Regions from separate parts of the Homo sapiens genome. Here regions 1 and 3 are each linked to region 2. The links come from fine-mapping of genetic effects on gene expression. A gene starts in region 2. Each other region holds a variant in brackets. All regions are shown on one strand. Distances are from middle to middle.

Region 1 (10,279 bases), 540 kb before region 2:
TCACATCAGTAAATGCCTCCTTCACCCCACTAAGGCCCTGACACCCCACTTCTGGGCCACTGTGCCCCCAACACCCCAAGCTGGCCTTGCCTGCCCCACCTCAAACCTTAGAACTTTATCGTTCAGGAAGACAAATTTAGGGAAGGGGAAGAATGCCGATTTCTATTTAATGTATTTGACCATATCAATGTTTTCTTTTCTGGCCTCTGAAGTTTGAGTCACGGTCATGCCCATGTTATAAAATAATTTTCCAATGCTTACTTCTCACTCGTTATGGTTTCCTATCTGATACTGAAGACTTTGATCCATCTGGAGTTTATTCAGTGGGTTATTTTTATTTTTTTATTCCTTCCTTCACTTGGATTGAATGGGTTTTCTGTATTCCCGCTTTTTCATATTTACTTTTTTAATCAAAGTTATATATGTACACAGTAAAGTCACACAGTGCTACGTGTTCAGTTTAACCTTCCCCATGCTGTCCCATTGGTAACTGATCTCTGAATTAGTTATAGCAATGTGAAACACTGGGACGGACCCACACTAAAATATCAGTGGTTTGAACAATTGTTTTTTTTTTTTTTTTTTTGAGACGGAGTCTCACTCTTTCATCCGGGCTGGAATGCAGTGGTGCGATCACTACAACCTCTGCCTCCCGGGTTCAAGCGATTCTCCTGCCTCAGTCTCCGGGGTAGGTGGGATTACAGGCACCTGCCACTATGCCCAGCTAATTTTTTGTATTTTTAGTAGACACAGGGTTTCACCATGTTGGCCAGGCTGGTCTGGAACTCCTGATCTCGTGATTTGCCGGCCTCGGCCTCCCAAAGTGCTGAGTGGCCGTGAGCCACCGTGCCTGGCCTAATTGATTTTTTTTTTTTTTTTTTTTACAGAGAGATGGGGTCTCACTATGTTGCCCAGTAGTCTCAAACTCCTGGGTTCAAGCAACCCTCTTGCCTTGGCCTCCCAAAGCACTGGGATTACAGGTGTGAGCCACTGCACCTGGCCCTACAGTTGATTTTTGTTTCTATTCATGTAAAGTCTAACTAGTAGAAAGACAGAGGGTCAAGGACTCAGGCTGATAGCAGCTCTGTCATTTTCTTTTTTTTTTCTTCTTCTTCTTCTATTTTTTTTGGTGAGATGGAGATTTACTCTTGTTGCCCAGGCTGGAGTGCAATGGCGCGATCTCGGCTCACCGCATCCTCCGCCTCCCGGGTTCAAGCGATTCTCCTGCCTCAGCCTCCCAAGTAGCTGGGATTACAGGCATGTGTCACCACGCCCGGCTAATTTTGTATTTTTAGTAGAGACGGGGTTTCACCGTGTTGCCCAGGCTGATCTCGAACTCCTGACCTCAGGTAATCCTCCCGCCTCGGCTTCCCAAAGTGCTGGGATTACAGGCGTGAGCCACTGCGCCCGGCCAGCTTTGCCATTTTCACACGTGGCCTCCAAGGTCTCTCTGGATGTGGGACGCAGGCTCCCAGGTGAACCGCAATGATCCCCACCTCTTGGTATCTATGCCATGTGCATTCCTTTCCCACATTACACTAGGGTTGGCCTTTGTGATGGATATCACAGGGCAGAAGTGGTGGGATGGGCCAGGCAGTCGCTCACACCTGTAATCCCAGCACTTTAGGAGGCTGAGGCAGGAGGATCACTTGAGCCCAAGAGGTCAAGACCAGCCTGAGGCCCCCATCTCTACAAAAAATTTAAAAATTAGGCCGGGCGCAGTGGCTCATGCCTGTAATCCCAGCACTCTGGGAGGCAGAGGTGGGCGGATCACCTGAGGTCGGGAGTTCGAGACCAGCCTGACCAACATGGAGAAACTCTGTCTCTACTAAAAAAATACAAAATTAGCCGGGCGTAGTGGGATGTAATCCCAGCTACTTGGGAGGCTGAGGCAGGAGAATCGCTTAAACCCGGGAGGTGGAGGTTGTGGTGAGTTGAGATCGCACCATTGCACTCCAGCCTGGGCAATAAGAGCAAAACTCCGTCTCAAAAAATTAAAAAAAAATTTTAATTGGCTGGGTGTGGTGGCGTGTGCCCATGGTCCCAGCTACTTGGCAGGCTGAGGCAGGAGTATCACTTGAGCCTAGGAAGTTGAGGCTCCAGTGAGCCATGACCGCACCACTGCACTCCAGCCTTGATGACAGAGGGGGACCCTGTCTCAAGAAAAAAAAAAAAAAGGAATGGTGGGATATGACATCTGAGACTAGGCTACAAAGACTGCGGCTTCCATCGTGGTCTCTCTCTCACTCTCTCTTTCATCACTTGCTCTGGGAGAAGCTAGTGGCCAAGACACGAGGAATGCCCAAGCAGCCCATGCAGACATCAACAGCCAGCGAGGAACTAAGGCCTCCAGCCAACAGCCCTGTGAGTGAGCTCGGATAGGCCAGGCTCAGTGGCTCACACCTGTAATACCAGCATTTTGGGAGGCCAAAGCAAGTGGATAACTTGAAGCCAGGTGTTCGAGAACCAGCCTGGCCAACATGGTGAAATCCCGTCTCTACTTAAAAATACAAAAAATTAGCTGGGTGTGGTGGCACGTGCCTGTAATCCCAGCTACTCGGGAGGCTGACGCAGGAGAATCACTTAAACCTGGGAGGCAAAGGTTTCAGTGAGTGGAGACTGTGCCACTGCACTCCAGCCTGGGCAACAGAGTGAGACTCTGAGACTCTGTCTCGAGAGAAAAAAAAAAAGAGGGTTCTCCAGCCTCTGTCGAGCCTTCACATGACTGCAGTCCTGGCTGACAAGCTTGACTGAAACCTGAACCAGGAACACCCAGCCGAGCTGCTTGGGATTCCTGACCCTCCAGAAACTATGTGAGAAGGCCAGGCACCATGGCTGACACCTGTAATCCCAGAACTTTGGGAGGCCGAGGCAGGCAGACCACTTGAGGTCAGGAGTTCAGGGCCATCTCTACTAAAAATACAAAAATTGGGAGGCCGAGGCAGGTGGATCACGAGGTCAGGAGATCGAGACCATCCTGGCTAACACGGTGAAACCCCATCTCTACTAAAAATACAAAAAATTAGCCAGGTGTGGCAGTGGGTGCCTGTGGTCCCAGCTACTTGGGAGGCTGAGGCAGGAAAATGGCGTGAACCCAGGAGACAGAGCTTGCAGTGAGCAGAGATCATGCCACTGCACTCCAGCCTGGTGACAGAGCGAGACTCCGTCTCAAAAAAAAAAAAAAAATTAGCCAGGTGTGGTGGTAGGTGCCTGTAATCCCAGCTACTAAAAAAAAAAGAGAGAGAGAGAAGGGAAAAAAAAAACTATGTGATACAATAAATATTTGTTGTTTAAGCTGTGAGGAATTAACTCAGGGGTAATTTGTTAGACAGCAATAGATGACTACTACACTGCTATCTGCATCCAACCGGCAGGTAGAGAAAAGAGAGAGGGCACATTAGAAGTTCCCTAATGGGTGTGGCTGGAAGTGAGGCAGGGCTCTTCTCATTGGCCAGAACCACTCACATAACCCCAGTGACTTGCAAGGGGTGCTGGGAGATATAATCCCCCCAGGGGCACTGTCACACAATAACAAATATATATTTGGTCTCTGTCCCCCCAGTTTCTGGGACAGAGCTTTGAAACCCCTTATAATTTCCCCAGTGTTAGGGATGCCAGCAGCATCTTTTGTTCTAATATTTGATCTTTGACCCCAGTTCCCGACAAAGGGCTCCTAAATCCCTTGGAATTTCCTGAGTAATGGGAGCATCATTTTTTCTTTTTTCTTTTTATTTTCTTCTTCCCTTTTTTTTTTTTTTTTTTTTTTTTTTTTTTGTTTGAGACAGCGTCTTGCTCTGTCACCAGGCTGGAGTGCAGTGGTGCAATCTCCACACACTGCAACCTCTGCCTCCTGGGTTCAAGCAAGTCTCCTGCTTCAGCCTCCCAAGTAGCTGGGACTACAGGTGCCCGCCACCATGCCTGGCTAATTTTTGTATTTTTAGTAGAGACGGGGGTTTCACCATGTTGGCAAGGTTGGTCTGGAACTCCTGACTTCAGGTGATCTACCCCCTTGGCCTCCCAAAGTGCTGGGATTACAGGCGTGAGCCACCACACCCAGCTGAGAGCACCTTTTTTTCTAATGAGGTGACTCTTGGTGGGCTCCTGATGGGGGCTGATCACCAGCAAGACTCAGTCAATATTAGAAGCATGGAACCTGTAGCCCCATCCCACTCCACATCTTTCCGGAAGAAGAGGGAACTGGAGCTGGAATTACTAATCTATCCTACTTATGCGCTGAAGTCTCCATAAAAGTCCCTAAAGTATGGGGGTGGGAGAGGTTCCTTGTAGCGTCCAGCCCTACAGGGCCTTGTGGGTTTTCTCTTCGTGTGTGGAGATGAGAGATTGTAGAAAGAAAGACATGAAACTAAGAGAGAGTATGAAAGACAGCTGGGCCCAGGGGGCCACTACCACCAGTGCATGGAGTCCATTAGTGGCCTCGAATGCCTGGACTGCTGCTATTTATTGTATACAAGGCAAGGGGGCAGGGTAAGGAGTGTGAGTCATCTCAAATGATTAATAAGGTCAAGCAAGTCACGTGTCCATGTGACAGGGGGCCTTTCCCTTTTTGGTAGACGAAGCAGAGAGGGAAGACAGCATACGGTCAGCATTTTTTCTATGTACTTATCAGAGAGATCAAAGACTTTAATATTTTCACTATTTCTGCTACTGCTATCTCCCAGGAACTTAAAAGAGGAACCAGGTGTACAGGCGGAACATGAAAGTGGACAAGGATCATGACCACTGAAGCACAGTACCACAGGGAGATGTTTAAGCCTCCGGATGACTGTGGGCAGGCCTGGCTAATGTCCGGCCTCCCACAAGAGGCTGGTGAGGCAGAGTGTTCTCTAACTCCCCCAAGGAAGGGGAAACTCCCTTTCCCGGTCTGCTAAGTAACGGGTGCCTTCCCAGGCACTGGTGCTACCACTAGACCAAGGCGTCCTTAAGCCCTTATCTGGGCGTGGCGGAGGACTTTCACTCTTGTCTTCTGGTCACATCTCACCATGTCCCTTCAGCTCCTGACTCTGTATCGCCTGGTTTTTCCTCAGTTATAATAATAAAACAGAGATTAATACTAAAACTAATAATTGATAATATCCATATATAATCATCTCTATATCCTATTGCTAGTATAACTTTTCTTATTCTAAGTATTTTCTTTATTATATTGAAACAGTATGTGCCTTCAATCTCTTGCCTCAGCACCTGGGTGGCTCTCTGCCCACAGTTCCGGGCGGGGAAGCACCCCAACTCCATGGAGACGCCCAACCTGGAAGCTCCCC[C/G]AAACCCATCCTTTGCTCCCGTGCTCGGGAGGCGTTCAGATGTTGCCCTTTGCACCTCTTTATCTGACAGGTTTTATTTAATTATATGATAAACTGATAAATGTGTTTTCCTTAGTTCTGTGAGGCATTGTAGCAAATTTCTGAGCCTAAGGAGGGAGTCATGGGAACCCCCATTACTAGCAAGTCAGAAGCTCGGGTGAGACCACGTGGACTTGTGATTGGCATCTCCCAAGGGGCAGCCTCGTGGGACTGAGCCTTTCACCTGTGGGATCCGATGCTATCTCCAGGTAGATAATGTCAGAGTTGGATTGAATTGTGGGACACCCAGCTTGGGTAGGAGAATTTGTCAGCGTGGGAAAAACCCCACACACCTGGTCACAGAAGTGTTGAGTGTGAGCCTGAGAAAAACAGGTGTTTTTTTCTAGATAAGATCCATGGAAGGGGAACACAATTTTTTTTTTTTTTTGAGACAGCTCTCTGTCGCCTAGGCTGGAGTGCAGTGGCGCGATCTCGACTCACTGCAAGCTCCGCCTCTCGGGTTCACGCCATTCTCCTGCCCCAGCCTCCCTCCTCCCGAGTAGCGGGGACTACAGGCGCCCACCACCACGCCCGGCTAATTTTTTGTATTTTTAGTAGAGACGGGCTTTCACCGTGTTAGCCAGGATGGTCTCGATCTCCTGACCCTGTGATCCTCCCGCCTCGGCCTCCCAAAGTGCTGGGATTACAGGCGTGAGCCACCGCGCCCGGCCAGGGAGCCTTTAATGAGTTTAAAAGTTGTTGCATTCTTTCCTTTGCTAAATTTGGTTTCACGGGGAACACATTTCCTGGCCCCTGGGATTTGGGTGTGTATCCTGGTCTGTGACGCAGGCCAGGGGCTGGCATGTGACGCGAACCGGGGGCCACTTCCCGAAGCAGGTCAGCGAGAGGCACTCTGGAGCTGTTGCCCAGCCACTAGTGACGTCATGGGCTTTCAGTCATTCCTATTGGGTGCTCTTAGTGCTCTATCCTCAAACTCCGCAACCGGCCCTTGGAAAAGACTCTGAACTGAGGCTTCTGGAAAAAAGAATCCGAGCTTCCACGTCATTTCAGAAATACCCCCCTCACCTTATTTATTTATTTATTTATTTATTTATTTATTTATTTATTTATTTATTTATTTATTGAAACAAGGTCTGACTCTGTCGCCCAGGATGGAGGGCAGTGGCGCGATCTCTGCTCACTGCAACCTGGAACTCCTGGACTCAAGCGATCCCCCACCTCAGCCTCCCGAGTATCTGGGATTACAGGTACTCGCTACCACGCTCAGCTAATTTTTAAATTTTTTGTAGAAATGGGGTTTTGCCATGTTGCCCAGGCTGGTCTCGAGCTTCTGAGCTCAAGCGATCTGCCCGCCTCGTTCTCCCAAAGGGCTAGGATTACAGGCGTGAGCCACCGCGCCTGGCCCCCAAATTCTTTTATGTTTATAAATTTAAACTGTACGCCGGGCGTGGTGGCTCACGCCTGTAATCCTAGCACTTTGGGAGTCCAAGGCAGGTGGATCACCTGAGGTCAGGAGTTCAAGACCAGCTGACCAACATGGTGAAACCCTGTCTCTACTAAAAAATACAAAAAATTAGCTGGGCGTGGTGGCACACGCCTGGAATCCCAGCTACTCGGGAGGCTGAGGCAGGAGAATGGCATGAACCCAGGAGGCGGAGGTTGCAGTGAGCCAAGATCGCACCACTGCACTCCAGCCTGGGCGACAGAGCGAGACTCCGTCTCAAAATAATAATAATAATCATCATCATCATCATCGTCATCATCATCGTCATCATCAGCCAAGGGAAAACGTGGATGGGGCAGAGTCCAGGAGACACCAGGCGTGAGCTTTCAGATGTCCTCCCCCAGTGGAGTTCTAGACAGTGCTCAATTCTCCCGGTAATGACGTGTGCCAAAACGCATGCAGTATTGCCAACCAGGGAGTCTCACCCCAGATCTTAGGATGAAAAAAAAATTTTTTTTTTTTTTTTGAGTCTTGCTTTGTCACCCAGGCTGAAATGCAGTGTCATGATTTCGGCTCACTGCAGACTCAACCTCCCAGGTTCAAGCTATTCTCATGCCTCACGAGTAGCTGGGATTACAAGGGTACGCCATCACACCTGGCTAATTTTTTAATTTTTATTTATTTATGTATTTATTTATTTTTGAGACGAAGTCTTACTCTGTCACCCAGGCTGGAGTGCAGCGGCGTGATCTCGGCTCATTGCAGCTTCCGCCTCCTGGGTTCAAGTGATTCTCCTGCTCCAGCCTCCCAAGTAGCTGCAACTACAGGCGCCCGCCACTCTGCCTGGCTAATTTTTGGTTTTTGTTTTTTGTTTTTTTTGAGACGGAGTCTCGCCCTGTTGCCCAGGCTGGAGAGCAATGGCGCAGTCTCGGCTCACTGCAACCTCTGCCTCCTGGGTTCAAGCGATTCTCCTGCCTCAGCCTCCTGGGTAGCTGGGATTATAGGCACCTGCCACCATGCCGGGCTACTTTTTGTATTTTTAGTAGAGATGGGGTTTCATGATGTTGGCCAGGCTGTTCTCAAACTCTTGGACCTTGTGATCCGCCTGCCTCGGCCTCCCAAAGTTCTAGGATTACAGGCGTGAGCCACCACCATGCTGGGCCTAATTTTTGTATTTTTAGTAGAGACGGGGTTTTGCCATGTTGCCCAGGCTAGTCCCGAACTCCTGGGCTCAAGGAATCTGCCCGCCTCGGCCTCTCAAAGTGCTGGGATTACATTCGTGAGGCACCGTGCGCAGTCCGGGGGACAAAATTTTAAACAAGTGTTGGTCATGTAAGCATGGCAGACTGCACGTGTGACTGACCTCAGATACTCCAGCTGCCTCCTCCTGAGGGGTGGACTAGAACAGGGACTGGTAACCAGGGGTTAAAGGATCGGGACCTGACGCCTAAATCTTTTGAATTTACATGCAAAATATGGGCATATAACATGAGCAGTGGTTCAGGATGTGGGCAATGAAGAGAGAGAGCCTGAGTTCCCCCACCTCTTACTACTGGAGTAACCAGGGGCAGGAGACTTCTGAATTTCAGTATTCTTATCTGCACAAGTGGAAACGAGAGAAATACTGTAGGGCAGTGCCTTCTAGCGGGCTTAGAGGAAGCCTCTGGACATGGTAGCTATTACTTATTTGCTTAGTCTTTAGCATTCTGCACGTTTTGTTTGTTTGTTTGAGATGGAGTCTCTCTCTGTCACCCAGGCTAGAGTGCAGTGGTGCGATCTCAGCTCACTGCTACGTCCACCTCCCGGGTTCAAGTGATTCTCATGCCTCAGCCTCCCAAGTAGCTGGAATTACAGGCATCATCATGCCTGGCTAATTTTTGTATTTTTAGTAGAGACGGGGTTTCATCATGTCGGCCAGGCTGGTCTTGAACTCCTGACCTCAGGTGATCCGCCCACCTCAGCCTCCCAAAGTGCTGGGATTTACAGTTGTGAGCCACCCCGCCCAGCCAGATGTTCAAATTTTGATATGGATTAAATTCAGTTACTAGATCACTTTTTTTTTTTTTTTTTGAGACAGGCCCTTACTGTGTTGCCCAGGCTGGAGTGTGGTGGCACGACCCCATGGCTCACTGCAACCTCGACCTCGTGCTCAAGCAATCCTCCCACCTCAGCCTTCTCAGTAGTTGGGACTGCAGGCAGGTGCCACCATACCCAGCTAAGTTTTTGTTGTTGTTGTTGTAGAGACCAGGTGCATGCTGTTAAAACTAACTACCCGAGACTGGGTAATTTATAAAGAAAAGAGGTTTAATTGACTCACAGTTCCACAGGGCTGGGGAGTCCTCAGGAGACTTACAATCATAGCAAAAGGGGAAGGGGAAGCAAGGCACGTCTTATATAGTGGCAGGAGGGAGAAAGAGCTAGAGGAGGGAACCACCACAGTTTCAAACCATCAGATCTTGTGCGAACTCACTCATGACTACGAGAACAGCATGGGGGAAACTGCCCCCACGATCCAGTTACCTCCCACCATGTCCCTCCCTGGACCCGCTGAGATTATAATTCATAATGAGATTTCAGTGGGGACACAGAGCCAAACCATATCAGTTGCCAAGGCTGATCTTAAACTCCTGGGCTCCAGCAATCCTCCTGCCTCAGCCTCCCAAAATGCTGGGATTATAGGCATGAGCTACCGTGCCCAGCTGCATCGTCATCTTAATACTATTGTCTTCCAGTCTATAAACTTGGGATGTCTTTCCATTTATGTCTGTTACGAATTTCTTTCTTTCTTTTGTGTATTGTCAGTCTTTCACCATTGAGTAGGATGTTTGCTGTGGGTTTTTCATAAATGCCTAAGCCAGTGTTTCTGTTTTGTTTTGTTTTCTTCTTTTTTGAGATGGAGTCTAACTCAGGCTGGAGTGCAGTGGTGTCATCTTGGCTCACTGCAAACTCTGCCTCCTGGGATCAAGCGAATCTCTCGCCTCAGCCTCTCAAATAGCTGGGATTACAGACACCTGCCACCAAGCCTGGCTAATTTTTGTGTTTTTAGTGGAGGCAGGGTTTCCCCATGTTGGCCAGGCCGGACTCGAACCCCTGACCTCAAGTGATCTGTCTGCCTCGGTCTCCCAAAAAGCTGGGAATACACATGTGAGCCACCGCGCCCTGCCTAAGCCAGTGTTTCTATTTTTTTTTTTTTTTTTTTTTTTGAGATGGAGTCTCACTCTGTCGCCCAGGCTGGAGTGCAATGGCACAATCTCGGCTCACTGCAACCTGTGCCTCCGGGGTTCAAGTGATTCTCCTGCCTCAGCCTCCTGAGTACCTGGGATTACTGCCCACCACCACACTGGGCCAATTTTTGTATTTTTAGTAGAGACAGGGTTTCACCATGTTGGCCAGGCTGGTCTCCAACTCCTGACCTCAGGTGATCCACCCGCCTCGGCCTCCCAAAGTGCTAGGATTACAAACTTGAGCCACTATGATCAGCCAGCCAGTGTTACATCACCTCAGGGGAGTCTTTCCA
Region 2 (10,279 bases):
GAATCACAAAAGTAAAATTGAAAATTTTACAAATTTGTAGAAATTAAACAACACACTCTTAAACAACCAATGGATCAAAGAATAAACTACAAGGGGAGTTAGAAAATACTTACAGATAAATGAAAACGAAAACACACATACTAAAATTTATGGGAGGCAACAAAAGCAATGCCAAGGGGGAAATTTATAACTATCAATGGTTACATTAAAAAACAAAAAAGAGGCCGGATGCAGTGGCTCACGCCTGTAATCCCAGCACTTTGGGAGGCTGAGGTGGGTGGATCATTTGAGGTCAGGAGTTCAAGACCAGCTTGACCTACATAGTGAAACCCCATCTCTATTAAAATACAAAAATTAGCTAGGCATGGTGGTGGGCGCCTGTAATCCCAGCTACTCAGGAGGCTGAGGCAGGAGAATCGCTTGAACCTAGGAGGCGGAGGTTGCAGTGAGCCGAGATCACACCACTGCACTCCAGCCTGGGCAACAGAGCAAGACTCCCTCTAAAAACAAACAAACAAACAAACAAAAAAAAACCAGATCTTGAATCAATAACCTAACTCTAAAACTTAAGAAACTAGAAAAGCAAACTAAACCCAAAGCTAGCAGAAGAAAATAATAAAAATTAAAGCAGAAATGAATAGAGAATAGAAAAACAATAGAGAAGCCAAAAGTTGTTTCTTTAAAAATATCAACAAAATTGACAAACCTTTAACTAGATGTACTAAGAAAAAAAGAGAAGACTCAAATGATTAAAACCAGAAATGAAAATGGGGACATTATTACCAATTCTACAGAAATAGAAGGATTATAAGAGAGTACTATGAACTTATGAACAACTGTACACCAATAAACTGGATAACCTAGATTAAATGGACAAATTCCTAGAAATACAAATCTACTAAGACTAAATCACAAACAGAAAATCTGAATAGATCTATAACTAGTAAGGAGATTGAATTGGTAATCAAAAATCTCTCAACAAAGAAAAGCTCTGGACCTGATGGCTTCATGGGTGAATTCTACTAAACCTTTAATGAATTAATATCAATCCTTCTCAAACTTTTCCAAAAAATTGGAGAGGAGGGAACACTTCCTCATTCATCCTATAAGGCCAACATTGCCCTAATACCAGAGCCATACAAAGACATTATAAGAAAAGAACACTACAGACCTATATTCATTATGAACTTTGATGCAAAAATCCTCAAAAAAAATACTACCAAACCTAATTCAGCAGCATATTAAAAGGATTATATACCATGACCAAGTGGGATTTATTCCTGGAATGCAAGGATGGTTCTGCATACAAAAATCAATCAATATAATATACCACATTAACAAAATGAAAGAAAAATAATGATTCTCTCAACTGATGCAGAAAAAACATTTGACAAAACTCAATACCCTTTCATGATAAAAAAAAAAAAAAAAACTCAACAATCTAGGAGTTAAAGGAAAATACGGCTGGGCATGGTGACTCATGCCTGTAATCCCAACACTTTGGGAGGCCTGATGACCACTTGAACCCAGGAGTTCAAGACCAGCCTGGGGCCAGGTGCAGTGGCTCACATCTGTAATCCCAGCACTTTGGGAGGCCAAGGCGGGTGGATCACCTGAGGTCAGGAGTTCAAGACCAGCCTGGCTAACATGGTGAAACCTGATCTCTACTAAAAATACAAAAATTAGTCAGATGTGGTGGTGTGCACCTGTAGTCCCAGCTACTTGGGAGGCTAAGGCTGGAGAATCGCTTGAACCTGGGAGGCAGAGGTTGCAGTGAGCCAAGATCATACCACTGCACTCCAGCCTGGGTGACAGAGCAAGACTCCATCTCAAAAACAAACAAACAAACAAACAAACAAAATTTTTAATTACCTGGGTGTGTTGATGTACTTCTGTAGTCCTAGCTACTCATGAGGCTGAGATGGGAGAATCACTTCAGCCCAGGAGGTCAACGCTACAGTGAGCCATGATGACACCACTACACTCCAGCCTGGGTCACAAAGTGACACCATGTCTCAGCAAAAAAAAAAAAAGGAAAATATCCCAACATAATAGCCATATACGAAAAACTCACAGCAAATGTCATACTTAATGATAAAAGACTGTAAGCTTTTCCTCTAAGATTAGAAACAAGCGTAGAATGTCTAATTTTGCCACTTTTATTCAACATAGTACTGGAAGTCCTAGCCAGAGAAATTAGGCAAAAATATAAATAAATAAAAGGAAACCAAACTAGAAAGATTATATGATCTTATACGTAGAAAATCCTAAAATTTTCACCAAAAAAATTTTTGAGCTAATAAATGAATTCAGCAAAGTAGCAGGATACAAAGTCAACAATCAAAACTCAGTTGCATTTTTATACACTAACAATGAACAATCTGAAAAGAAAATTATGAAAACAATTCCATTTGTAATAGCATCAGAAAGAATAAAATACTTAAGAATTAACTTGGCTGGGCACGGTGGCTCAAGCCTGTAATCCCAGCACTTTGGGAGGCCAAAGTGGGCAGATCACCTGAGGTCAGGAGTTCGAGACCAGCCTGACGAACATGGAGAAAACCCGTTTCCATTACCAAGTTACCCAGGCATGGTGGCACATGCCTGTAATCCCAGCTACTCAGGAGGCTGAGGCAGGAGAATCACTTGAACCTGGGAGGCAGAGGTTGCAGTGAGCCGAGATTGCACCATTGCACTCCAACCTGGGCAACAAGAGTGAAACTCCATCTCAAAAAAAAAAAAAAAAAGAATTAACCAAGAAGGTGAAAGACATGTACAAAGAAAACTACAAAACATTGCTGAAAAAAATTAAAGGAGACATAAATAAATGGAAAAATATCCCATGTTCATGGGTTGGAAGACAACACTGTTAAGATGTCAGTATTACCCAAAGCAATCTACAGAATTAGTAGCTTTTTTTTTTTTTTTTTTTTTTTTTTTTTTTTTTTTTTTTTTTTTGCAGAAATAGAAAAACACGTCCTAAAACTAACATGAAATCTCAAGGGACCCTGAACAGCCAAAATAATCTTGAAAAAGAAGAAAAACGCTGGTGTACTCACATTTCCTGATTTCAAAACATATTACAAAGCTATAGTAATCAAAATAGTGTGTTACTCACATAAAGATACAGACCAAGGGAACAGAATAGAGGGCCCAGAAACAATGTATGGAAAAATGATTTTTTACAAGGGTGCCAAGACTACTCAATGAGTAAAGGACAGTCTTTTCAACAAATGGTGCTGGGAAAACTGGATTATGTACAGGCAAAAGAGTAAAGATGGACTCTTACCTAACACCACATACAAATACACAAAATAAATCAAAGACCTAAATGTAACACTTAAAATTATAAAATTCTTAGAATAAAACATACGACAAAAGCTTCATGATAGTGGATCTGCAATGAATTCTTGGATATGATACCAAAGGCAAAAGCAACAAAAGAAGAAACAAACAGGATTTCATTAAAATGTTTTAAATTTGTGCATCAAGAGACACTATCAAAGGGGTGAAAAGATAACCCACAGAATGGGAGGAAATATCTGAAAATCATATGTATAATAAGAGATTAATATTCAGAATATATAGAGAACTCGTAAAACTCAACAACAAAGAAACAAACAACACAATTCAAAAATGGGCAAAAGACTTAAATAGACATTTCTCCAAGGAAGATATACCAATCTCCAAGAAGTACATGAAAAGATGTTCAACGTCACTAATCATTAAGGAAATGCAAATGAAAACTACAATGAGATAATACCTCGCATCCATTAGGATGGCTAATATAAAAAGGCAGAAAATAAGAAGTGTTGGTGAGGATGTGGAGAAATTGGAATCCTTGTGCCTTGCTGGTCAGAATGTAAAATGGTGCAACCACCATGGAAAACACTATGGTGGTTCCTCAAAAACTTAAAAATAGAATTACCATATGATCCAGCAATTCCACTTCTGGGTATACACCCAAAATAAGTGAAAACCAAGCCTCCAGTGGCTCAGCCTGTAATCCCAGCTCTTTGAAAGGCTGAGGTGGAAGGATTGCTTGAGCCCAGAAGTTCGAGGCTGTAGTGAGAGGTGATCATGCCACTGGACTCCAGCCTGGGAGACAGAGAGAGACCCTGTCTCTTAAAAATAATAATAATAGGCTGGGCACGGGGGTTCACACCTGTAATCTCAGCACTTTAGGAAGCTGAGGCGGGTGGATCGGCTGAGGTCAGGAGCTCGAGACCAGCCAGGCCAACACAGTGAAACCCCGTTTCTACTAAAAATACAAAAAATTAGCTGGGGGTGGTGGCGCACGCCTATAGTCCCAGCTACTTGGGAGGCTGAGGCAGGAGAATCGCTTGAACCTGGGAAGCAGAGGTTGCAGTGAGCTGAGATCGTGCCACTGCACTCCAGCCTGGGTGACAGAGTGGGACTCCATCTCAAATAAATAAATAAATAAAAAATAATAGATTCATGTTTCTTAAACACATTCTAGAACAGTTGTCCTTAAAAGCAAGCTTTACGGAAGGGAGAGAACTGAGTTTTGGCCAGCTGGCCACTTCCAACATCCATAAAGCCCCTTGAGCCCCAGGCGGACTCCTCTTCCCATATGGGTGCAACCCTCCATGGTGCCCCTACACCGTCATCCCAAGCAACTCCTAGGCTCATGCCCTGTGGGGAGTGCTCAGGATCCCCCAGAAATGCCCATTCCCCTCACATTACCTCCTTCCCTGGAACTATAACCTCCAGAAAAGGAAAATAAGGAGCTGGTGTCCCATTTCTGCAAAAAGCAGAAAATAACTGCCCTAACAGACCAGTGATGGGGCTAGACCCGGGTTTCTGCCACTCGGGCACTTGACACTGATGGCTTTCCCCAAAGGCAGGGACTGATGGCCGAATCCTGTCAAGGAATTGGCTCAAACTCGGACTGGATGAGTGAGGAGAGCCGAAGACAGTTTCCTCTGTCCTACGTGGGGGGTAAAGGAGGGACCCCTTTGATCCCTCAGCTCCACAGAGCCCAGGGCAACCAGGAGGCTCCCAGCCAGTCACCTGTCACCCGTCAGTGGAGCCCAGTGGGCCCGGGCCTCGAAAATGGCGCCCAGCCCCACACACCCCAGATGTGGGAACATTTTAGGGCTCCCTGGGCCGTGACCCTCACCCTAGCCCCAAGGCTTCTGCCAGGTTCTTCAGTCCAGCCAGTCGGACAAAAATGAGGGTGAAGAAGCCCCAGCTGAGAAGCCTAGCAATCTCCTCAGGCCCCTTCAGGCGTCGACAGATCGGTTTGGGCGACACCCCTCGATCTGCCTGGCGCGCGGCCTTTCCCGCCGATTCTCTGCGCATGCGCCGCCGCGCCCCCTCACTCTTTCCCTACAGCTGTAGCAAACACTGTAACCACTTCGCCCTCCCCAACTCCCTGCTCTCTCCCCACACGCACGCACGTGTGCACATCCTCTGACTGCTCACGCGCCACTCCCTTCCCCACCGCACCCCACCCCGACACCCACGATGCCACGCTTCAGGCGGGGCTCTAAGACAAGGCCTTTCTCTGGCACATGCACTTTGCTTCCACTTCATGTAAGGAAGAAGAGGGTAGGAAGTGGGAGAATCGTCTCATTCATTCCTTCTAGCCTTCAAACCTTTCGCATTTACTTAAAGATCGCCTACTAGAAACCAAACCTTAAATATGCGTCCAACAAGGCAGACAGGGACGTTGCCTTAAGAGAGCTCAGAAGCCTACTAGGGCTGCAGACAAGAATTAAAAACTCAAAGATTTACTTAGGTCATCCGTTCTCATACTTTCCGGTCTCTTAAGAATTATTAAGGACTCCAATAATTTATGAGTTACATTTATATGGGTTGTATGTTTATGTGAGTTGTATCTATCAATATTAAAATAAATTTCTAAAATAGTCATTGTTTAAAAATTCATTATGTGTCAAAATAACATTTTTATTTAAAATAACTATAATTTCTACTCCAAAAGAAATTTTGGCGCTGGGCGCGGTGGCTGACGCCTGTAATCCCAGCACTTTGGGAGGCCAAGGCGGGTGGATCACGAGGTCAGGAGTTCGAGACTAGCTTGGCCAACATGATGAAACCCCGTCTCTACTAAAAGTCAAAAAAAAAAAAAATTAGCCGGGCGTGGTGGCACACACCTGTAATCCCAGCTACTCGGGAGCCTGAGGCAGGAGAATCGTTGGAACCCAGGAGGCAGAGGTTGCAATGAGCCGAGATTTTGCCACTGCACTCCAGCCTAGACAACAGAGCAAGACTCCGTCTCAAAAAAAAAAAGGAAAAAAAAGAAAAAATTTGGGGAGAAGAATGGCATCATTTTACATTTTTGCAAATCTCTCTAATGTCTGGCTTCATAGAAGACAGCTGGATTCTCATATCTGCTTCTGCACTGAGTGTGTCAAAATAGCTCATGTCTTGTAGCTTCTGGCAAACATCACTATATTCAAAGAGGAAATGAAAGTGAAAGGCAAATAATATCTTAGTAGTATTATGAAAATAATGTTCACCTCATGGACCCCCAAAAGTGTTTCAAGAGCCCCCAGGAGTCCCTGAGCCACACTTTGAGAATGAAAGGCTTAAATTGTTATGATTGAACAAAGAGATGAAGAGGAAATTTTGGGGGTGCTGTAAGAATTCATCACAATCTTTGGGAATCATTCAATCTTTCAACACGTATTTATCGAGAGTCTACTAAATGCTAGGAACTGGGAATAGTGTAGAGAACAAAACAGACCCCATTCCTGCCCTCGTTTTGCTTCACACAACAAGAAAACAGATATATGATGAATCTCAAATAATTACATGATTATAAATTGTATTAAGTGCTATGACAGGCCGGGCATGGTGGCTCACGCCTGTAATCCCAGCACTTTGGGAGGCCAAGGTGGGCGGATCACATGAGGCCAGGAGTTCAAGACCAGCCTGGCCAACATGGTGAAACCCCATCTCTACTAAAAATACAAAAACGAGCCAGGTGTGGTGGTGCACGCCTGTAATCCCAGCTACTCGGGTGGCTGAGGCACAAGAATCACTTAAAACCATGAGGCAGAAGTTGCAGTAAGCCAAGATCACACTACTACACTCCAGCCTGGGTGATGGGGTAAGACCCTGTCTCAAGGAAAAAAAAAAAAGTGCTGCGACAGAAAAGGGCCACAGACCTATTTATTTCTATCGAATTTTTTTTTTTTTTGAGACAATCTCACTTTGTCACCCAGGCTGAAGTGCAGTGGCATAATCTCGGCTCACTGCAACCTCTGCCTCCCGGGTTCAAGCAATTCTCCCTGCCTCAGCCTTCCGAGTAGCTGGGGTTGCAGGTGCCTGCCATTACGCCTGGTTAATTTTCATATTTTTAGTAGAGTCAGGGTTTAGTAGAGTCAGCCTGCCATGTTGGCCAGGCTGGTCTTGAACTCCTGACCTCAGGTGATCCGCCCGCCTCAGCCTCCCAAAGTGCTGGGATTACAGGCGTGAGCCACTGCGCCCGGCCCATAGACCTAATTTAGAAGGAGGATTTCTCTAAGGAAATAACACTGGAGTTGAGGCTTAAAGGATTATTTGCTAGGTGAAAAATGTGTGTGAACATCTCAAGCCTTGAGGCTGTGCAAAGGCCCTGAGGCAGGGCAAACTGTGTGTTCAAGGCACCAGGAAAAGTCTCAGTCGGTCAATAAATATTTATTGAATGATGTGCCCCACACTGTCCTAGACCCCTGGGATATAGTTATGAAAAAGATTTTACGTTCCAGTTGCACAAAGAAAGTAAATGCCTAAATAGAAAGAATTTCAGAGAGTAAGAGTGCTGATAGGGAGTTACTTTAGACAGGGTAGTCAAGAAGGACTCTTGGGGAAAGTGATATTTCAGCAGAGAGCTGAAGGAAGGGAGCCTTGTGAACAGCATAGGGAAGAACATTCCAGGCAAAGAAAATGGCAACAGCAAAAGCCTTGAGGCAAGAAGTACACTTGATGGGTTCTGGAAATGGCAAAGAGTCTGATATGAATGGATCCCAGTGATTGAGGAAAGGGTAGCAACAGATCAGATCAGAGCAGTGGCAGGGGCCAGAGTATTATTTGGAGGCCCTTATAGGTCATGGTCGGAATTTTTTTCTTTTTTTTCTGGGTGAGATGAAAGCTATTTGAGGGTTCTGAGTCAAGGAGTGACTTTCATTTTAATGGCAGGCTCCCCCTGGCTTCTGGGCAGAGAATAGCATGTATGGGTGTATTCCTCTGTTTTCACACTGCTGTAAAGAACTGCTCAAGACTGGGTAATTTACGAAGAAAAGAGGTTTAATTGACTCACAGTTCAGCTTGGCTGGGGAGGCCTCAGGAAACTTACAATCATGGCAGAAGGCAAAGGGGAAAAAAGGCACCTTCTTCACAAGCAAAGGAGGGAAGAGCCCCTTATAAAACCATCAGATCTCATGAGAACTCACTCACTATCACAAAAACAGCCTGGGGAAACCACCCCCATGATTCAGTTACCTCCACCTGGTCTCTCCTTTGACACATGGGGATTATGAAGATTATAATTCAAGATGAGATTTTGGGTGGGGACACAGCCAAATCATAGCAATGGGCTAAAGATAGAAGCAGAGAGCCCAGTGAGGAGGAAATCTCTAGTCCAGGCAAGTGATGGTGTTGATTAGATCTGGGTAATAGCAATGGAGATGGTGAAAAGTGGTCAAATTCTGGATCTATTTCAAGAATAGAGCCGACATGATGTGTTGATGGATTGTGTGGTGGTTTTAAAATACGTCTGCAAATTCTTCAACACTTTGAAAGATAAAGTCTATTTCCCCAATCTTTGAGTGCAGGCTCTCCTTAGCAACTGGCTTCCAATGAACATAAGTAATGGTGGGGAACTTCAGGACTAGGTCATAAAAAGCATTGCTGTTTCTTACTTGCCCATTCCCTTCAACTGATTTCTGTAAAGGAAGCCAGTCACCATACGGTGAGGACACTCAAGCAATCTGTGAAGAGATCCATATAAGAGAAGAGCTGAAATTTCCTGCCAGCAACCAGCACCAGGTGAGTGAACCATGGTGAAGTGGATCCTCCAGCCGTAGTTAAATCTCCAGATGACTACAGCCCCAGCCAACATCTTGACTGCAACCTCATAAAACACTGTGAGCAGAAATCATCCAACTAAGCTGCTCCCAGATTCCTGACCCACAAAAACTACAGTAGGTAAGAAATGTTTATTGTGTTTTTTTTTTGAGATAGAGTCCTGCTCTGTTGCCCAGGCTGCAGTGCAGTGGTGCGATCTCAGCTCACCACAACCTCCGCCTCCCAGGTTCAAGCAATTCTCCTGCCTCAGCCTCCCGAGTAGCTGGGACTACAGGTGGGACCACATCCAGCTAATTTTTGTATTTTTAGTAGAGACGGGGTTTCACTATGTTGGTCAGGCTGGTCTCGAACTCCTGACCTCGTAATCTGCCTGCCTCAGCCTCCCAAAGTGCTGGGATTACAGTGAGCCACCGCTCCTGGCCTAAGAAATGTTTATTGTTTTAAACTGCTAAATTTGGGGTAATTTGTTACAGAGCATTAGAAAACTAATGGTGATTAGGTTTGGGGTCTGAGAGAAAGAGAGGAATCAAGAATGACTCAGCCGGGAGCGGTGGCTTGCACCTGTAGTCCCAGCACTTTGCAAGGGCGAGGTGGGAGGATTGCTTGAGGCTAGGAGTTTGATAGTAGGATACTAGCCTGGGCAACATAGCAAGGCCTTGTCTTTTTTTTTTTTTTTTTTTTTTTTTGAGACAGTCTAGTCTCGCTCTGTCGCCCAGGCTGGAGTGCAGTGGTGCGATCTCCACTCACTGCAAGCTCTGCCTCCCAGGTTCACACCATTCTCCTGCCTCAGCCTCCCGAATAGCTGGGACTACAGGCGCCCGCCACTACGCCTGGCTAATTTTTTGTATTTTTAGTAGAGACGGGGGTTTCACTGTGTTAGCCAGGATGGTCTCGATCTCCTGAACTCGTGATCCGCCCGCCTCGGCCTCCCAAAGTGCTGGGATTACAGGCGTGAGCCACCGTGCCCAGCCCGGCCTTGTCTCTTAAAGGAAAGAAAAGTGTTTTTTAATAGCCAGGTGTGGTGGCACGCATCTGTTGTCCCAGCTACTCAGGAGGCTGAGTGGGAAGATCACTTGAGCCCAGGAGATTGAGGCTGCAATGAGTCATGATCGTGCCAGTGCCCTCCCACTTGTGTGACAGAGCAAGACCTCAAAAAAAAAAAAAAGACTCCAAAACTTTGGGCCTGAAGAATTGGAAGATGGAGTGACAATTTACTGAAAAG
Region 3 (10,279 bases), 20 kb after region 2:
AACCGGCTCGCTCGATACCGTTAGGCCCCGCCCTCCCCAAAGTCCCGCCCCGCCCCCGTCACGTGCGCTGGGCACTTCCCTGCTGCCTGTAAATATTTGTTTAATCCCCAGTTCGCCTGGAGCCCTCCGCCTTCACATTCCCCTGGGGACCCACGTGGCTGCGTGCCCCTGCTGCTGTCACCTCTCCCACGGGACCTGGGGCTTTCGTCCACAGCTTCCTGTCCCCATCTGTCGGCCTACCACCACCCACAAGATTATTTTTCACCCAAACCTCAAATAAATCCCCTGCGTTTTTGGTAAAATAGCTTTATCCTCTGTCAGAACACAAACAAACAAACTTTGAGAGGGGAGGAAGGAAACCGTCTAGCTCAGGGCTCACTTAGGAGAGGGATGAGATTAGAAAGTTCAACACACTGCTTGTGCAGCGGAGATAAAGTCAAGACCCTAGCACCCACTTATAAATATCTCGTTATATTAAAAAAAAAAAAAATGTCCAGGGCCCACCTGGCTCTGCTCCTGCACAGAAAGGGTTCATCTTCACTTTGTGATCTCACAGGTCATGGAGTGAGGGTGGTAGAGAGGGGCAGAAATTTCAGGGGGAGGGGTGGCTGGGAAAAAGTAAAGGGGACAAGCCAATGTGTAACTAGCGCTCTCCAAGACATGCAGAGGAGTGGGGGTGGCCTGTCAGGGGCTGAAAAGAAAAGCCAGTGCTGTACCTGGGGGGTTGTCTCACTCCTGTCCCCACAATCCCTGATACTCCGGAGTGATCTGTCCTTTCAGACACCCACTGTGAGGTCCCAATATCGGGGTTTATCCTTTCCTCAGTCCCAGCCTGTTCAGCTCTCCAACCAAGTTTTGGGGGCCCCTCTAATGGGGGGGATGGCCCCAGTTGCTTAGGCCTCTGAGGTCAACCCCTTTACATCACAGCCCTCTCCCCAAATAAGAAGCATGAGGTGAGCTGGAGGACCCTCCCTGGGAGGAGGGTGTTCTGGGGGGTGAGCCAGTTTTGGGGTCCCCCTTCAGTCCCTGACCAGGCGGTAAATGTGATGCTGGGCCCCACGCTCGCTGGTGGAGACCTCGAAGACATAGGCGGTGCAGAGCAGCAGTTCCTGGGTGTCTCTGTTTGTCACCACCTGCCAGGAAGGCCAGGACAAGGGACTTATGCTTAGAAGGGAGGGCAGGGACCCCTGTGCCCCCCTGCCAAGCTATCATGGAATACCCAGCAGGCTCTTTTCCATCTCCAGGAAACAGGCCGCCACCATATCATGTTCCCCAGGAGAAAGGGATGCCCAAAAGTCAGTTCCCTGGGCAATGGGGGTTACCCCTCAGCTGAGCGTTGGCAGTTATGGTGTATCACATCTCAGGGTTAATCGGGTTCCCATCACATCACATTCCCTGGGTAAAAGGGGTCCCCATCATGTCACAAGTAAAGGGAGAACCCTCCCTGCAGGTTCCGCGGTCAAGGGGTCTCTGCCTCAGCAGTCCAAAAAGTTAAAGGGGCTCCCACCATATCATGTTCCTTGACAAGCTGAGGATCTGCCTTCGAGTGCCCTCCAGTCAGCTTCACCAGGGAAGGAGGGACCCACCTTATGTGCGAGTGCTGTGGGGCTGGGCGTGGTGGCTCACACCTGTAATCCCAGCACTTTGGGAGGCCTAGGCAGGTGGATCACTTGAGGTCGGAGATCAAGACCAACCTGGCCAACATGGTGAAACCCCATCTCTACTAAAAATACAAAAATTAGCCAGGCGTGGTGGGGCGTGCCTGTAATCCCAGCTACTCGGGAGGCTGAGGCAGGAGAATCACTTGAACCCGGGAGGCAGAGGTTGCAGTGAGCCGAGATCTTGCCACTGCACTCCAGCCTGGGCGACAGAGCGAGACTCCATCTCAAAAAAAAAAAGAGAGAGAGTGCTGTGACATCCCCACCCTGGGTGAAGGGTCCCCTAAACTAAGGGTCAATGGTGGGGTCCCCGCTGCATCAGTTTCCTAGTTAAAAGAGCCTCAGGCTGAGGGCTCACTTTGGAGTCCCTGCTGTGTCAGTTCCTGGGTGAGGAGATCCCCTAGACTGAGGGTCTGTTATAGGTACTGTCCCTCCACACTGGGGGGCCCCACTCCAGCCCAGCCCCAGGCATCACCTGGAGGATGGTGAAGTTTTCCAGGACGCTGTTCATCATGTATCGCTCAGGCAGCTGCCGCAACTTGTGCAAGAAATTCACCAGGTACTCGCACATGGGCGAGCGCAGCAGGCGGTACACAAATCTGCCGTCCTCCAGCTGGGCCCGTTCCGTCTGAACCAAGGGGAAGGGAGTTGGGAAAATGGTGGCTGAGAGACCCACGGGTCACCCCAGGAATTGAGCTCCACCCTGTGCCTCTAAGATGCCACCACACTCACTCTCACTGCCACCTTCCTTTCATCACCCCACCCACAGTGACTGGAGACTGGGCCTGAACCCTCGGAGATCCGAATCAGGATCTCTGAGCCTGCAAATCACAAGCCCCTCAAAGTGATTCTCTGAACCCCCAAAGACCTCTGGACTCCTCTAACCTCCCAGCCCTCAGATACCCTCCAAAGACCCCTCCATGACGTCTTCAAACTCTGACTTCTAAACTTGAGACTTCCCCAAGTCTCCAGCAACTGTAAGTGTGACTTCTGAACCTTCTTGCCCTAAGAACCTCTCCATATCCATAAGACCCTTCTCAATCTCAGTGACTCTAAGTCTCTATACTACACATTACCTGTCAGCCCGCAGAATGATCCCTGCCTGTGACTTCTGAACTGCCCATTAGCTCCCAACGCATGCATTAAACCCTCAAAGAGGCTGGGACCCACTCCCTCCATGCATACTCCCAAATGCCTGAGTCATGATGGCTTCTGGTCCATTCTGCACCCCCAAGTGCTGACCCAGAGCTCCACCCCTCCAGCCTCACCTCCACCTTCTCCACCACCTGCTTGCCAAAAGAGCAGACCTTGGAGGAACAGGTGAGGGTCATGTGTTCCAGGCTCTCATACTGGCTGCTCACTCCGTAGAAGCCACCACTGCTGATGCTGCCACCGGCCCCTGCCTCCTCACCACTTGGGCCCCAGTTCAGGTCCGCCTGGGAGATGGGAAGGCACAGATGAGTCAGAGGGGACATCCCTTATAAACAGTGGGGACTACCAGGCGCAGTGGTTCACACCTGTAATCCCAGTACTTTGGGAGGCCGAGGCGGGCGGATCACCTGAGGTTGGGAGTTCAAGACCAGCCTGACCAACATGGAGAAACCCCATCTCTACTAAAAATACAAAATTAGCCGGGCGTGGTGGTGCATGCTTGTAATCCCAGCTACTGGGACACTGACGCAGGAGAATCACTTGAACCCGGGAGGCAGAGGTTGCGGTGAGCCGAGATCATACCATTGCACTCCAGCCTGAGCAACGAGAGCGAAACTCCATCTTAAAAAAAAAAAAAACACAGTGGGGACTCTGCCCCATAGCCTACCATTACCCCTGCAGTTCCCGGCTTGATTCTTCAGTGTTGTTTTGTTTTTTTGTTGTTTGTTTGTCTTTTTTTTTGGGGGGGGGGGAACAGGGTCTTGCTCCGTCACCCAGGCAATGTGTGGTGGTACAATCACAGCTCACTGCAGCCTCGACCTCCTGAGCTCAAGTGATCCTCCCATCTCAGCCTCCTGAGTAGCTAGGACCACAGGTGCATGCCACCACATCCAGCTAATATTTTGTATTTTTTGTAGAAACAGGGTTTCACCATGTTGCCCAGGCTGGTCTCCAACTCCTGGGCTCAAGCGATCCTCCCACCTTGGCCTCCGAAAGTGCTGGGATTACAGGCATGAGCCACCGCGTCAGGCTTTCAAAGTTCTCCAAGGGCTGGTTTCTGGAGAAGATCCACCGTCCATCAGCGTTGAAGAAGTCTGGGTCCCCAAAACAGTCTTGGCCCTGTCTCCCCAGTAACCAAAGGAGCCCTGGAATTCAATTTCAACCTTTTTTCTTTTCTTTTTTTTTTTTCTGAGATGAAGTCTCGCTCTTGTTGCCCAGTGCAATGCCGCGATCTTGACTCACTGCAACCTCTGCCTCCCGGGTTCAAGCGATTCTCCTGCCTCAGCCTCCCAAGTGGCTGGGATTACAGGCGCACGCCACCATGTCTGGCTAATTTTTGTATTTTTAGTAGAGACAGGGTTTTGTCATGTTGGCCAGGTTGGTCTCAAACTCCTGAACTCAGGTGATCCACCCACCTAGGCCTCCCAAAGTGCTGAGATTACAGGCATGAGCCACTGTGTCCAGCCAATTCAACCTTTTTCCCTTGAAGCCCGCAACTCAAGAGTTCAGCCCCTTCCAAGGGCCTGGTTACTATGGCAGTTACTTCTTAGCAACCAGTTCAAGATGAATACCTCCCTCTAAGCCCCTCTCACTCTGGTTGCTAAGGCAAGTGGCTACTCCCTAGCAACGGGACCTCACGGAGCCTGAGGAGGCCTGACTCCTCCTCAGAGCACTTCCCCCTCGGCCAAATCTGAGAGGTCAGACTCCCTCCATGACCCCAGTGGCCAAGTGTGTGTAGACAGCTGGCCAAGTGTCACTAGGCCAAGTGGGGCCTAAGGAAGCCTAAGAGCTCATCACACCTTTGGTCTGAGTCACCTCCTTGCGAGGCGCACCTCTTCCTCTTCCTAACTTTAGTTGCTAACACTGTGCCAGGTCCGTCTTCTCAGGGGCCCGACTCCATCTCTCACCGTGGCAAAACCAAAGACCTTACCAGCTGCTCCTCTGAACCCCTTCAGCAGCTGGGCTTCCTAAGGGGGTGGCTCTCCAGTCCTGGGACCTGATAAGGCCTGTCTTAAGCCCCAACAATGTCTAAGCCCTCAGCTGCACATCCCCAGAGCAGTTTCAGGCTTCTGCTTCACATGGCAGAAAGCTCCAGAACCGTGAACAGCAAGCTCCAGAACAACAACACTCCCAGCAAGAACAGTAAAGTTCAGGCCCTCAGCAGGCCTTTCCTTCCTTTCCTTCCTTCCTTCCTTCTTTCTTTCCTTCTTTCTTTTCTTTCCTTTCTTTCCTTCTTCCTTTCTTCCTTTCTTTCTTTCGGCAGGGTCTCATTCTGTCACCCAGGCTGGAGGGCAGTGGCACAATCTTGGCTCACTGCAGCCTCCACCTCCCAGGCTTAAGTGATCCTCCTGCCTCAGCCTCCACAGAAGCTAGGACCACAGGTGCGCACCACCACACCCAGCTAATTTTTTTCATTTTTTGTAGAGTTGAGGTCTCACTGTGTTGCCCAGGCTGGTGTCAAACTCTTGAACACAAGCGAAACTCTCGCCTCAGCTTCCCAAAGTGCTGGGAAGATAGGAGTGAACCACCACACCTAGCCAGGCTTTCTTCTCAGAGACTAGATCCCTCCACCACCTTTGTTACTATAAGAACTAGCACCCCCTAAACATCCAGGCAACATTTATTGAGCCCAGGCCAGGCACTGTGGCTCACACTTGTAATCCCAGCACTTTGGGAGGCCAAGGTGGGTGGATCACTTGAGGTCAGGAGTTCGAGACCAGACTGGCCAACATGGTAAAACCCTGTCTCTACTAAAAATACAAAAATTAGGCCAGGTGCAGTGGCTCATGCCTGTAATCCCAGCACTTGGAGAGGCCAAGGTGAGCGGATCACATGAGGTCAGGAGTTCAAGATCAGCCTGGCCAACATGACGAAACTCCGTCTCTACTAAAAATACAAAAATTAGCTGGGCATGGTCGTGCATGCCTGTAATCCCAGCTACTTGGGAGGCTGAGGCTGGAGAATCGCTTGAACCCAGGAGGCAGAGGTTGCAGTGAGCCGAGATCGCACCATTGCACTCCAGCCTGGGCAACAAGAGCAAAATTCCATCTCAAAAAAAAAAAAAAAAAAAACAATAAAAGAAAATAAAACACATTTATTGAACCCCTGTAGTGTTAGTCATCATACTGGACACCAAACCAAGTAGCCCTAAGAAACACGCAAGATGGGCCCTCTTAGTCCCAATCATATAAATAGCAGCTGACACCAGGCGTCTATATAGGAAGTGCTCAATAAATGATTGCTACATAAATACAGGACTTGGACGGGTGCGGTGGCTCACACCTGTAATCCCAGCACTTTGGGAGGCCAAGGTGGGCAGATCATTTGAGGCCAGGAGTTCAAGACCAGCCTGGCCAACATGGTGAAACCCCGTCTGTACTAAATATACAAAAATTAGCCAGATGTGGTGGCGGGTGCCTGTAGTCCAATCTACTGGGGAGGCTGAGGCAGGAGAATCGCTTGAATCCAGGAGGCGGAGGTTGCCGTGAGCCAAGATACAGCCACTGCACTCCAGCCTGGGTGACAGTGAGACTATGTCTCAAAAATAAATAAATAAACAAATAAATGAATACAGGACTTGGCAAAGCCACTCCATGGCTCTTTTCATCACTTCCTCAAAGCCAGACATTCTCTAGCAACAAGGTCTGGTGAAACTGATGCAAAGCATCAGTCCCCTCTTTAGAAACCAGTCTCCACAAGTCCACTGGCTACGGGGAGGGGTCTTTCCTTAGCAGCACGGCTTGGTGCAGTCAGGTGGGGCACAGGGAAGCCTGGAACATGGCAAGCCCATGCCCAGGACCCTATTAGCTACATGGCCAGGTAACTCACCGTATTAGTTACATGTGGCAATGTCTAGTGGGATCCAGGGAGGCCCAGACACCTCCAACCCACCCTGGGGGCTGGCCTCCTCGGTGTTCCTTGTTGCAAAGGGGGCTGACACTCCAAGCCATGAGGACTGACTGGTAAGTCCCAGGCTGACCTGGTAGGGCCCGCGACAGATTCTCTCAGGGCCAGAGGCCTTTGCTGGGACACCACAGGATTTGTGAGCACTTTTGATTTTGCTGTGAGAACTCACCCAGAACTTGACCAGGAAGAAGGCATGGGGGGGGCCACGATCATATAGCTCTCGGAGGCCACCCTTTTTCTCAGGGAATTTGTCGTAGATCTGCCGGACGTCCACACTCTCGAGCGGCGGCGCTCCGGGGCTGGGGCAGTGCTGGCTGATGTGCACGAACAGGTGCCTCTGGTACTGAGGAGGGTTGGCCGTGGGTGAGAAGTCGGAGGTGAGCTGGATCTCCAGCCTGTGCTGCCTGAGCCCACCAAATGCCGTCACCATCCCCACAGCTCTGGCCAGCTGTTCCACACAGTCCACCCAGCACTGGGCCTGACTGCCACCCATCGTCCCCACTCCTGCTTCTGCACCCAGTCCCCTGCAGCCCTGCAGTCCTACAGTCCCCAACTCCCTGCCACAACTCCCCCAACTCCATCCTCACTGCCTCAGCCTCACCTCAGGCCTCCCACCCTCACCCCAGCCTCCAACCTCGCCTCTCCAGTTCATCCCTCATGTGGCTCCAGACCTGCCCCTGACCCTCCCCTGGTCATGGCCCTCCCATAGCTCCCCAGCAGCCCCAGGGCAAAGCTCACACCCCCTAGGCCTGGTCCTATATAGAACAGGTGCTCA[T/C]AAATGGTCAATGGATGGAAGAGTGAATGAATGGGAATCCACAGAGGTCTTGTGGTTGATGTTTTGATTGATGTTTATATGGTGTGGCAGAGACTGCTACGTGTTCACAAATCCTGGTTCCTTTACACAGTGTGAAACTACATTTCCCAGGCCGCTTTGCAGTTAGGTGTGACCACATGACTAAGTTCTGGCCAATGGGATGTGACCAGGCCTGAGAGTCGACACATCCAAGTCAGATTCCTAAAACCTCCTGCACAATCTTGACTCTCTCCCTTCCTCCATCTGCTGGCCAGATGCAGAGACTCCATCAGCAGATTCTGAAGCCTTAGAAAATGGCAGAGCCACAAAATGGAAGGAGCCTGGATCCCCAAATCACTTGAGTCCAAGGCTCCTGCTGAACCTACATTGAAATGTTACATGCAACTTATCTGGCATTCAGTCCCTAAGAGTTAGGAGCTGTTTCTTCTAACAGTCGGCCCACTCCATCCTAGCCCAGGAGAAGCTCAAGCACAGAAATAAAATCTTTTCCAAGTTCCTAGTATGCATCACAAAGCCTAGTGAACAGTAGAAACTCAAACACGTTTGATAAATGAATGAATGATGTCCTGGGGAGCTTTTCTGACCTTCCCAACTTGTCACCCTATGACCTTCCAGTTCCTTTATGCTAGTAGTTCTCAAAGTACGGTCCCCAGACCAGCTGCATCAACGCACCTGGTAGCTTATTAGAAATGCAAATTCTCAAGCCCCACATCACATCTAGCAAATCAGAAAGCAATCTCTGTTTTAAGAAGCCCTTCAGATGATTCTGATACATGCTAAAGTTTTAAAACCATGACTTTATACATTCCCTTCCTGTCACCCTCTATATTTCAAAATCCCTCAGCGACTGTACCAAAATTTCACTCACAGAATCAACTGCATCTGGCGGTTCCACGAAGGCTGAGAACTCTACCAGCTGCAACCGGGCGGTGCCCAGGCCCCGAGCCTGCCAGGCTGGGGGCGATGGGGTAGGTGGGGGCAGGGGTGAGAGGGCTTGGGGGGGCTCGTACCCTAGAGAGAGAGAAGAAAGAACAATACAAATTGCTAACATTTATGGAATATATCAGGTACTGTTGTCTCTTGCCTGCCTCCACTTAGAAGCTGAAAAAGCTAAATACTCACTTTCCCAGCCTCCCTTGCAGTTAGAAGTGGCCATGTGACACAGTCCTAGCCAATGAGACGTTAGGGGAAATCTGCTGGGGGGCTTCTGGGAAGGAGTTTCTTCCTGAATGAAAAAGACAGAACTTTGGGAGGAGAAAGCTTTTGGCCCTGGCCAAGTCCTGCTTGGGAGATTGATATGGTTTGGATATTTGTCCCCTCCAAATCTCATGTTGAAATGTGATCCCCAGCTGGGCACGGTGGCTCACACCTGTAATCCCAGCACTTTGGGAGGCCAACGCAGGTGGATCACAAGGTCAGGAGATTGAGACCGTCCTGGCTAACATGGTGAAACCCTGTCTCTACTAAAAATACAAAATATTAGCTGGGCATGGTGGCACGTGCCTGTAATCCCAGCTACTTAGGAGGCTGAGGCAGGAGAATGGCTTGAACCCAGGAGGCGGGGGTTGCAGTGAGCCGAGATTGCGCCACTGCACTCCAGACTGGGGGACAGAGCGAGACTCTGTCTCAAAAAAAAAAAAAAAAGTGTGATCCCCAAGGTTGGAGGTGGGGCCTGATGGGAAGTGCTTGGGTCATGGGGGTGGATCCCTCATGAATGTCTTGGTGCCTTCCCCATAGTAACAAGTGAATTCTCACTCTTTGAGTTGATGTGAGCTGGCTGTTTAAAGGAGCCTGGCTTCGCTCTCTTGCTCCCTCTCACCATGTGACATAGTGGCTCCCCTTCCCCTTCCACCATGGTCCTAAGCTTCCTGAGGCCCTCACCAGAAGCATAGGCTGGCAACATGCTTCCTGTACAGCCTGCAGAACTGTGAACCAAATAAACCTCTTTTCTTTATAAATCACCCAGTTTCAGGCATTCCTTTACAGCAATGCAAATGGACCAACACAGACATGATCCCTGGAGTTGCAACAGCCATCTTGGGACAATAAGACAGACATGAGAGGAACTACAGAGATTCCAGTCCTGATATTGCTAAGCCCACACGGGAACAGCCCACCTCCAGGCTTTTTGTTGCATGGATTCATAACATGAATGCTTTTACTATTTAAGGCACTTTTAATGTGGGTCTTCTGTTACTTGCAGCCAAAAGTATTCCTAATTGATAAATCTATGGAAACTAAGGGACTCCCTCTTTCACTGATGTGAGTTCTCAGGGCCATATCAGCATGGACTTCCAGAAGCCATCTTTGCTGCCAAGTAGCTGAGTCTGCCTGGGAATGAAGCCACCACAGTGGAAAGCAGATCAAAGTAATGACTGATGCCATCACTTGAGCCGCTGGATCCAGCCACGCCTGAGGCCATAATTCTGAACTGTCAGTTACTGGAACCAATAAATCAATACATTTTTCTTATTATTTTTTATTTTATTTATTTATTTATTTTGAGACAGAGTCTTGCTCTGTCGCCCAGTCTGGAGTGCAACGGTGCCACCTCGGCTCACTGCAACCTCTGCCTCCCAGGTTCAAGTGATTCTCCTGCCTCAGCCTCCCGAGTAGCTGGGATTACAGGCAAGTGCTACTGCTACCACGCCTGGCTAATTTTTGTATTTTTTAGTAGAGGTTGGGGGGGGTGGTTTCGCCATGTTGGCCAGGTTGGTCTCGAACTCCTGACCTCAGGTGATCCACCCGC

Which allele goes with the higher level. Alleles are on the strand shown, and positions count from the first base shown. SD is a standard deviation of normalised expression in the study named. Not every link is listed here.
As copies of C replace T in region 3, the expression in neutrophils of the gene that starts at base 5,287 in region 2 goes down (moderate effect, 0.50 SD a copy in BLUEPRINT).

The links. PIP is the estimated chance that this variant, and not a neighbour inherited with it, causes the effect.
Region 1: its variant is the best candidate, but not a certain one, in a credible set for the expression of SLC6A16 in minor salivary gland (GTEx, PIP 0.77).
Region 3: its variant is the best candidate, but not a certain one, in a credible set for the expression of SLC6A16 in neutrophils (BLUEPRINT, PIP 0.60).

Annotation. Positions count from the first base shown.
Region 1 is chr19:48,776,393-48,786,671 of GRCh38, forward strand. No RefSeq gene overlaps it. Among named protein-coding and RNA genes, the nearest start is that of FGF21, 26 kb to the left of the region's middle. RefSeq lists a cis regulatory region at 4,396-5,036. The variant C/G (reference allele first, on the strand shown) is at 5,280.
Region 2 is chr19:49,319,905-49,330,183 of GRCh38, forward strand. It overlaps SLC6A16 (solute carrier family 6 member 16), which reads right to left and starts at 5,287. Exons shown (of 12, transcript NM_014037.3): 1 at 5,144-5,287. RefSeq lists an enhancer at 6,451-6,600 and a silencer at 7,394-7,545.
Region 3 is chr19:49,340,305-49,350,583 of GRCh38, forward strand. TEAD2 (TEA domain transcription factor 2) reads right to left here. Exons shown (of 13, transcript NM_001256660.2): 9 at 8,399-8,541; 10 at 6,886-7,059; 11 at 2,927-3,094; 12 at 2,134-2,286; 13 at 291-1,133. The coding sequence ends at 1,020. CD37 (CD37 molecule) reads left to right here. Exons shown (of 8, transcript NM_001774.3): 8 at 1-302. The coding sequence ends at 24. It also overlaps a transcript of SLC6A16 not described here. Among named protein-coding and RNA genes, the nearest start is that of CD37, 10 kb to the left of the region's middle. RefSeq lists enhancers at 1-135, 2,785-2,884. The variant T/C (reference allele first, on the strand shown) is at 7,492.